2 linked regions of the Homo sapiens genome follow. The protein of the gene in region 1 purifies or fractionates together with the protein of each later gene. This does not show direct contact. Each region holds a gene or a part of one and is shown in the gene's direction. Other genes may lie near its edges.

The links. The genes of interacting proteins can lie anywhere in the genome.
Region 2: the proteins of LDLRAP1 (region 1) and KLC1 purify together in Homo sapiens (affinity purification with western blotting, with the first as the bait; one study listed by BioGRID). This does not show direct contact.

Annotation. Positions count from the first base shown.
Region 1 is NC_000001.11:25,560,542-25,564,189, forward strand, and holds part of LDLRAP1 (low density lipoprotein receptor adapter protein 1), read left to right. Parts: intron 1-2,102; coding exon 2,103-2,175; intron 2,176-2,528; coding exon 2,529-2,612; intron 2,613-3,119; coding exon 3,120-3,250; intron 3,251-3,648. UniProt on the Homo sapiens protein: Adapter protein (clathrin-associated sorting protein (CLASP)) required for efficient endocytosis of the LDL receptor (LDLR) in polarized cells such as hepatocytes and lymphocytes, but not in non-polarized cells (fibroblasts).
Region 2 is NC_000014.9:103,670,611-103,674,258, forward strand, and holds part of KLC1 (kinesin light chain 1), read left to right. Parts: intron 1-2,403; coding exon 2,404-2,577; intron 2,578-2,721; coding exon 2,722-2,821; intron 2,822-3,648. UniProt on the Homo sapiens protein: Kinesin is a microtubule-associated force-producing protein that may play a role in organelle transport. The light chain may function in coupling of cargo to the heavy chain or in the modulation of its ATPase activity.

The DNA of each region.
Region 1 (3,648 bases):
TGGTAAGCAAAGTGCTACCCCCATTTCCACCCAGGCAGCACGGGGCCAGGCTGCTCCCTCCCCCATGACCATTGGCATCTTGGAGTGATCCTTGTGCAAGGTTTTTGCTTCTGGGGCAGCAGGGCTGCTGGGGGGCATGTGGCTGTCTTGGTTTGAGTTTCTGGCCCCTTTTGAGCCATGAGCAGCCTGGTTCCTGGGAACAAGGAATGTGAAAAACTGGGCAAGGTAGCATCCACTCAGGATAATAAGGCAGACCCGAAGGCCAGAGGCAGTCAGGAGGGGTGGGCATCCCGCCTGGGCAGGCCTGAGCAGTCCCTCCACCTAATGCTGGTCCTCGGATCCCTGCAGCCACCCCAGGAAGCAGGGCCCACCCCACTCCCAGTCCCTGCCCAGCCTGGGCTTGCAGCTACCTGCACACATCCACCTCTTGGGTTGTATTCAGTTTAACTTACAGCTTGGGACTTCAGGGCAAAAAGGTAGGAATGTATGCAAGTGAACAATCAGATTTATGCAACTACAGTCTAAGCTTGTGTCTCCAGATTTCCAGCAGGCTTAAATAATGGCGTTTTCATATCCCTGCCACATTGGGTGTCCAGCCCTTGCTTGGGTGGATAGTGATCTGACTTGGGCTGGTAATTAGCCCATATTTTTAGTTCATGGGCAATTCTCAATGGTAACTGGGTCTATTAAACTTGATTCAGATATGACAGCTTAAATTGTAAACAGCTGCGAAGAGTTTCATACTTAATTACCATATTTAAGTTTTGCCATAAAGTGCCTGTACTTCCATCAAAAATGTAAATGTTGGAGACATTCAAATGAGGTTTTATACTTTCGTGAAGTGTAATTGGCACGGATCAGTCAGTTTGTTTAGGAATTTTAAATATTTTTTTAAAAGGAGTTTTAAAGGCAGTGGCCACAGGTCCATTTCTCAATTAAATTGAGTTGTCTGGGGGAGGGCAGGGAGCGGGGCTGAGGCTGGTGAGGCCTGAACTTGTAGACTTGAAAGAGGCTGGTGCTTTCTTCTCTCAGCCAGGGCTTCAGAAGGAAGCTAGATGTTTCCGGCTATAGCTACGAACTCTGGGACTTCCACTCCCAGAAGCTGAGCTGATTAACCCTGGACTGGAATGGCTGAGAGAGGAAGGTGTTGAGATGAATATGGGCTGGGGATAGGTCCTGGGTGGAATGAGGCCTGCACCTCAGGTGAATGTAATTCACCCAGCATTGTTGCCACCTCTGGGAGGCTTTGGCCTGCTCCCGAGGGCAGGGGTGTTCAGATTGATTCTTGCTTTTAGGGTGCACAAAGCTGGGGGAAACACAGGCAGGGGAGCCAGTGACACTTTCACATGCATAGTGCCAGAGGGAGGTGGGTGGGGCTCGAGGAGTCTGGGACTGGTGACAGGAGAGGTGGTGACATCTGAGTTGGGTTTGGAGGGGTGAGGGAGAGTTCCCCTGGGGTGAAGGGCCGAGGTGTGGCCCTTCCTTACAGGTGGGTTATAGCACTGACCGGTTTTGGTCCCCGGGCCTTCATTGACATCTTGCTCCTATCAGGAAATTGACAAGCCTTCTACTCTCTTTGTGGGATCCAGTTATGGTCCCAACCGGAACCTAACTTTCACCTCTCTGGCTGTGGCTCATTTGGGGCAATGGCTGGGCCCTTCCAATTCTGGCTTTTCTGTTCTCCAATTCCAAGGGCTAAGTCCACAGGTAATTAGGGAGGGTTTCTTGGAGGAAGTAAGCCTCACAGTTCATTGAATTCAGGGAAGCCCAAAGGGGAAGGAAAAGACCTGGAGAAGAACAGCCTTTGCAGGCAGGGGCCCTAGAGTGAGAGTGAGAACTTTGGTGGGGCCAGAGATAGTAAAGATGGGGACTCTACTGCCTCTGCGAGGCTATGGCCTTATGACACCCCAGGCTGCTTTGGAGACCTGGGAAGGGCCAGGACCCTGCTCTGCCCAGCAGGCATTCCAGAGCCTGGGATGGAGCTGCAGAAGCTGCAGGGAGGGAGCCAGGGGGCCTGGCCTGGAGGCCCCAGCCCTCCAGTGCAGACTTGCTCTGCCCTGGCTGACACTGCACCCCTCCCCATCCCCACTTCCTGTTTTCAGGCACAGGCTGTTACCCTCACCGTAGCCCAGGCCTTCAAAGTCGCCTTTGAGTTTTGGCAGGTGTCCAAGGAAGGTGAGACTTTGCATCTACATTGTGGGTGTGGTGGGAGGTGGGGAGACACATAAAGGCCCTGGGGTCAGACCTGGACCGACTTCCTGCCTCATCACCCACCTGGCTTGTGACTGTGAGCAGGTCCCTTCACCGCTCAGAGTCTCGGTTTTCCCATCTGAAAAATGGGAACAGCCGTCTCCCTCCCCAAAGGTGCTTGTGAGGATTAACTGACATCCGAAAGGTTTCTTTCCTCCCGGCTGGAAACCTGAAACTGCCCCTTGAGGTTGGCCACCGCTAATCACCCCTGCCCGGTGATTGCTGGGGACAGAGTGCTGGGGTCTGAGGCTCCAACATGTTGTGCCTTGGTCCTGCAGAGAAAGAGAAGAGGGACAAAGCCAGCCAAGAGGGAGGGGACGTCCTGGGGGCCCGCCAAGACTGCACCCCCTCCTTGAAGAGCTGTGAGTCCTGACGGGGAAGGGGGATTGGCCATGCGGTGTTGGGGTTGCGCTTCACCCAGGGGGGTCCCACTCCTGCCTGGGCTGGGAGAGCCTCTTGGTTTTTCACTTGTGTTTTGTTAAATAAATAATACACGTTCATTACAGATCAATTAGAAAATGTAGATAAGGGGAAGAAATAACTCATTTTAGTACATTTTCTTCTAGATATGTCCCTATGCAAATATATAAATATGCGTCTATCTTTCTATATACTTAACATAGTATTGTGTGGTTGCTTAAGAAAACTTAACTATTGTGAATACAAAAGTTTCAGTCTAAGCCATTAGTCAGGTTCTCACTCTGTGGGCAGCTGCGCATCTGCTGTGGGGAGGTGCCAGGGCCGGGCTCTGCTGGGAGGCCTGGGCAAGGCCACATCAGAGGGGAGGGTCAGGGCCAGGACAGCCCAGGGAGGGGGCCAGGAAGGAAGAGGCTGATCTCCCACTGACAACCTGACCGGATCCCTCACAGTGGTCGCCACTGGGAACCTGCTGGACTTAGAGGAGACAGCTAAGGCCCCGCTGTCCACGGTCAGCGCCAACACCACCAACATGGACGAGGTGCCGCGGCCACAAGCCTTGAGTGGCAGCAGTGTTGTCTGGGTGAGTGGTTGTGTGGCCAGCAGATCGGTGATCCTCAGCCTGACCTCTGGGTGAGCCTGGGGCTGCTCCAGGGACCAGGCCCTGGGACCCGTGACTTGTGGGCCTCTGGGAGGACCAGACCCAGCCCGGTAGTGCCCAGGCGCAGGATAGGGGATGAACAATGTCCCTTTTGAACCTGAGGCTGCATCCCCAACAGGCTTGGCTCCCAGCACAGCTGTCTCCTCACAATGCTTGGCCTCTTGGCCTGAGCGTCCACGGCTCTGCCCACCACAAGACCAGCCAAAGGCGCCCTTGTTCTTGGTGTGGCAGAGCTCGCTCCTACCACCCCTCCCCCTCAGCCGCCTGAATGAGGACCCAGAGACTTGGGCAGTCACCAGCTTGGTCCCTGACTCCCTCAG
Region 2 (3,648 bases), on another chromosome or scaffold:
AGGCTGAGCCACTGTGCCCGGCGCTGTTTTTTGTGTTTTTAAAAATTTTTCGGTTTTAGGTTTTGAGAAATAACCACTGTGATGTGTTTTTAACTGACTATTAGCTGAAAACAACTCATTTAATTAGAGAATAGCCCACAAAACAAAGCCAGATTGGCCCATACAAATCAGTGTTTAAGACTCAATTACAGGCTGGGTGCAGTGGCTCATGCTTGTAATCCCAGCACTTTGGGAGGCCAAGGTGGGAGGATCACTTGAGCCTAGGAAGTTTAAGACCAGCCTGGGTAACATAGTGAGACCTCGTCTCTAAAGAAAAAAAAAAGAAAAGAAGGTCCAGTTATGAGGCGTGTGCATTTAGAAAGGTGCAGTCCTGAGTCTGATGCTGTCCAAGCCTGATATGGCCTAGAAGTGACTCTGATTGAAGAAGACATGTCTGAGGACTAGAGATGGAAAGCCTGGGAGCATTGCATTTGACAGTGGAACATGTGCTTGTCAATAAGAAAAACATGATTAAAGATAAATTCACCAAATATGCTTTATGAAGCTGAAAAATGAAATAATTATTATTATAACTAAAGATTAACTCAGAGCTATAGATTAAGTCAATGTCATATATATTTAATACCAGCTGCTACAGTTCATGGTAATTAGGTATTAAAAAATATAACAACTTGTTCATTTCAGCAGTGCTGTGTATGACAATCTCTTTAGATGTTATGAAGATTCGGGTATTGGGTCTATCCGATGAGTGACCACAAATTGTGTTTTTTTTTTTCTGAAACGGAGTCTTGCTGTGTCGCCCAGGCTGGAGTGCAGTGGCACGATCTCGGCTCACTGCAGCCTTCGCCTCCTGGATTCCAGGAATTCTCTTGCCTCAGCCTCCTGGGTAGCTGGGATTACAGGCATGTGCCACAACACCCGGCTAATTTTTGTATTTTTTAGTAGAGATGGGGTTTCACCATGTTGGCCAGGCTGGCCAAGAACTCCTGACCTTAGGTGATCCATCTGCCTTAGCCTCCCACAGTGCTAGGATTACAGGCATGAGCCACTGCACCCAGCCGCACAAATGGTATTTTAACCTGGTATTTTTTGTGATTATTTATCAGTGATTCTTATCAGTTAATTTTGAGCCACATGGCAAGGAATTGGGGGAGAGAAAATAAAAAGGGGCTCCTTATCAAATTATACAGGTAATATTTTATCATGCTGTCAATCTGCATGATATTTCTGAAATAGAATGGTTGAATTTGGGGTGGGCTGGAGTTAAAGTCAGGGAGAGCACAAAAGTATCAAATTAAGGATTAGGAACCATATAAGATGACCTGCCAAATTCATTCATATATTTACCCTTTCATTCATTTAGAGCCCCCTGCTTAGAGTTGGTGATTTACAGATCAGACATGTAGTTCCTCCCACTAGGACACAGTCCACTGGACAGACTGAGGACCGCAGAGGGCACATCAGCATCTAGAATAGAGAGCTCTGGGAGGATATGAAGTGTGGGCTTCTGCGGGCCAGAGCCAGGGGGTGTTGGGGATGGTTTCTCAGGGAAGGTCGGTGTTGGAACTGCATCTTGAATAATTGAGTTAAAAGTGTCCTAGGCAGGGGGAGGTAGGGAATGCAGAAGGGAGTAGAAAGGCAGCTTACCTCCCTGAGGACCACATGTGTAAAGGCACAAAGCGGAGAGAACTCATCACTTGTTCAAGGTACTGAGGGAGGAGGTTAGTGTTCATTCATCTATCTCTGTGCCAGACCCCTTTTTCGATGCGGAGATTACATTGGTGAAGAAGAGAGACAAAGAATTTATACTCTTGGGGCTTACATTGTAATAAAAAATATTCAAGGTAGTTTAGAGAAGTGATTCTTATAAAGAACAACCAGGTGATGTGCCTGTGAGTTCACTAGGTGAGGTGGGGTGGTATAGGGAAGTCTCCTTTGAGGGGAACTGAGGAGAACCCTGAAGGATAAGTCGTAGCTAGTAGGGAGGGCTAGGAGAAGAGCATCCTGGGCAACTGGGACAGCTGTGGGCTCTTCAGAAGCTGGCAGTAAAACTCACATAGCCTTTACAAAGCCCATTTCCTTATCTTCAAAATGTGCCTAATGTGTACATTTGTACATAGTACAACCAATGTACAAAAATATAACTACCATGAAGGATTACTACAGTAATTAACACAGCTAAAGAAGATGAGCACAGTTCCCTCCCTCCCCTCATGAATAAGAATTTGAGAAATTCTGGTTATTTTATTACTACGTGGTGTAGCGAGCCAGTTAAGGATTTAAATCTGAAAGTGTAGCACAGTCGTGCTTATGTTGAGGAAGATCCTGATGTGACAGTAGGGTGGAGAATGGATTGGATGGAAGCAGAACAAGTGTCTCTAATATGCTGTTTTTTATTTTCAGGTTTTGGGGAAGGATCACCCCGATGTTGCCAAGCAGTTAAATAACTTGGCCTTACTGTGCCAGAACCAGGGCAAGTATGAAGAAGTAGAATATTATTATCAAAGAGCCCTCGAGATCTACCAGACAAAACTGGGACCTGATGACCCCAACGTGGCTAAGACGAAAAATAACCTGGTGTGTTGACTGCACAGCACTAGGGAGGGGGCCAGGAGTGCTTTCGTCCCAAGTCCAAACACTTTCTCATTTAACTGGAGATTAAAATGTATGCTTTATTTACATCTGAAAGATATGAAATATTTTATTTTATTTTATTTTAAGGCATCCTGCTATTTGAAACAAGGAAAGTTCAAGCAAGCAGAAACACTGTACAAAGAGATTCTCACTCGTGCACATGAAAGGGAGTTTGGTTCTGTAGATGGTAAGAAATATACTCCCGTTTCAAGTGAATTTAATTGTATAATGACTTGACTAATAGTAATATACTAATAGTATTAGTTACTGTTTATTAAGCACTTAACTTTGTACATCACTAAGCTAAATAGTTTAAATGTGTGATTTCACTTCACTTTCACAGCAGTCTTGTGCAGCGGGTCAAACATTACCCCATTTTAAAAGCAAGGATACCACAGGCCGGGCGTGGTGGCTCACGCCTGTAATTCCAGCACTTTGGGAGGCCGAGGTGGGTGGATCACGAGGTCAGGCGATCGAGACCATCCTGGCTAACACAGTGAAACCCCGTCTCTACTAAAAATACAAAAACTTAGCCGGGTGTGATGGCGGCCGCCTGTAGTCCCAGCTACTCGGGAGGCTAAGGCAGGAGAATGGCGTGAACCCGGGAGGCGGATCTTGCAGTGAGCCGAGATCGTGCCACTGCACTCCAGCCTGGGCAACAGAGTGAGACTCTGTCTCAAAAAAAAAAAAAGACACCACAGACTAAGTGACTTGTGTGAGGCCCCGTAGCTGAGAAGCAGTTAGACTGGGATTACAGTGCCCAGAGCCCATAACATGTCCTCATTGCAGAGACCTATACAGTTCACGCAGAAATGGAGACAGGAGCATCACCCAAATCCATCTTCATGTCCTCATTGCAGAGACCTACCCAATTCATGCAGAAATGGAAACAGGAGAATCACCCAAATTCATCTTTTCACATTTTTAATGTCTTTCCTTCCTTCTGTGCCTTTGGTTTACAGATTTCAAACCATACCGTCCATATCATCATGTATACTGCTTATTTTCTTTACA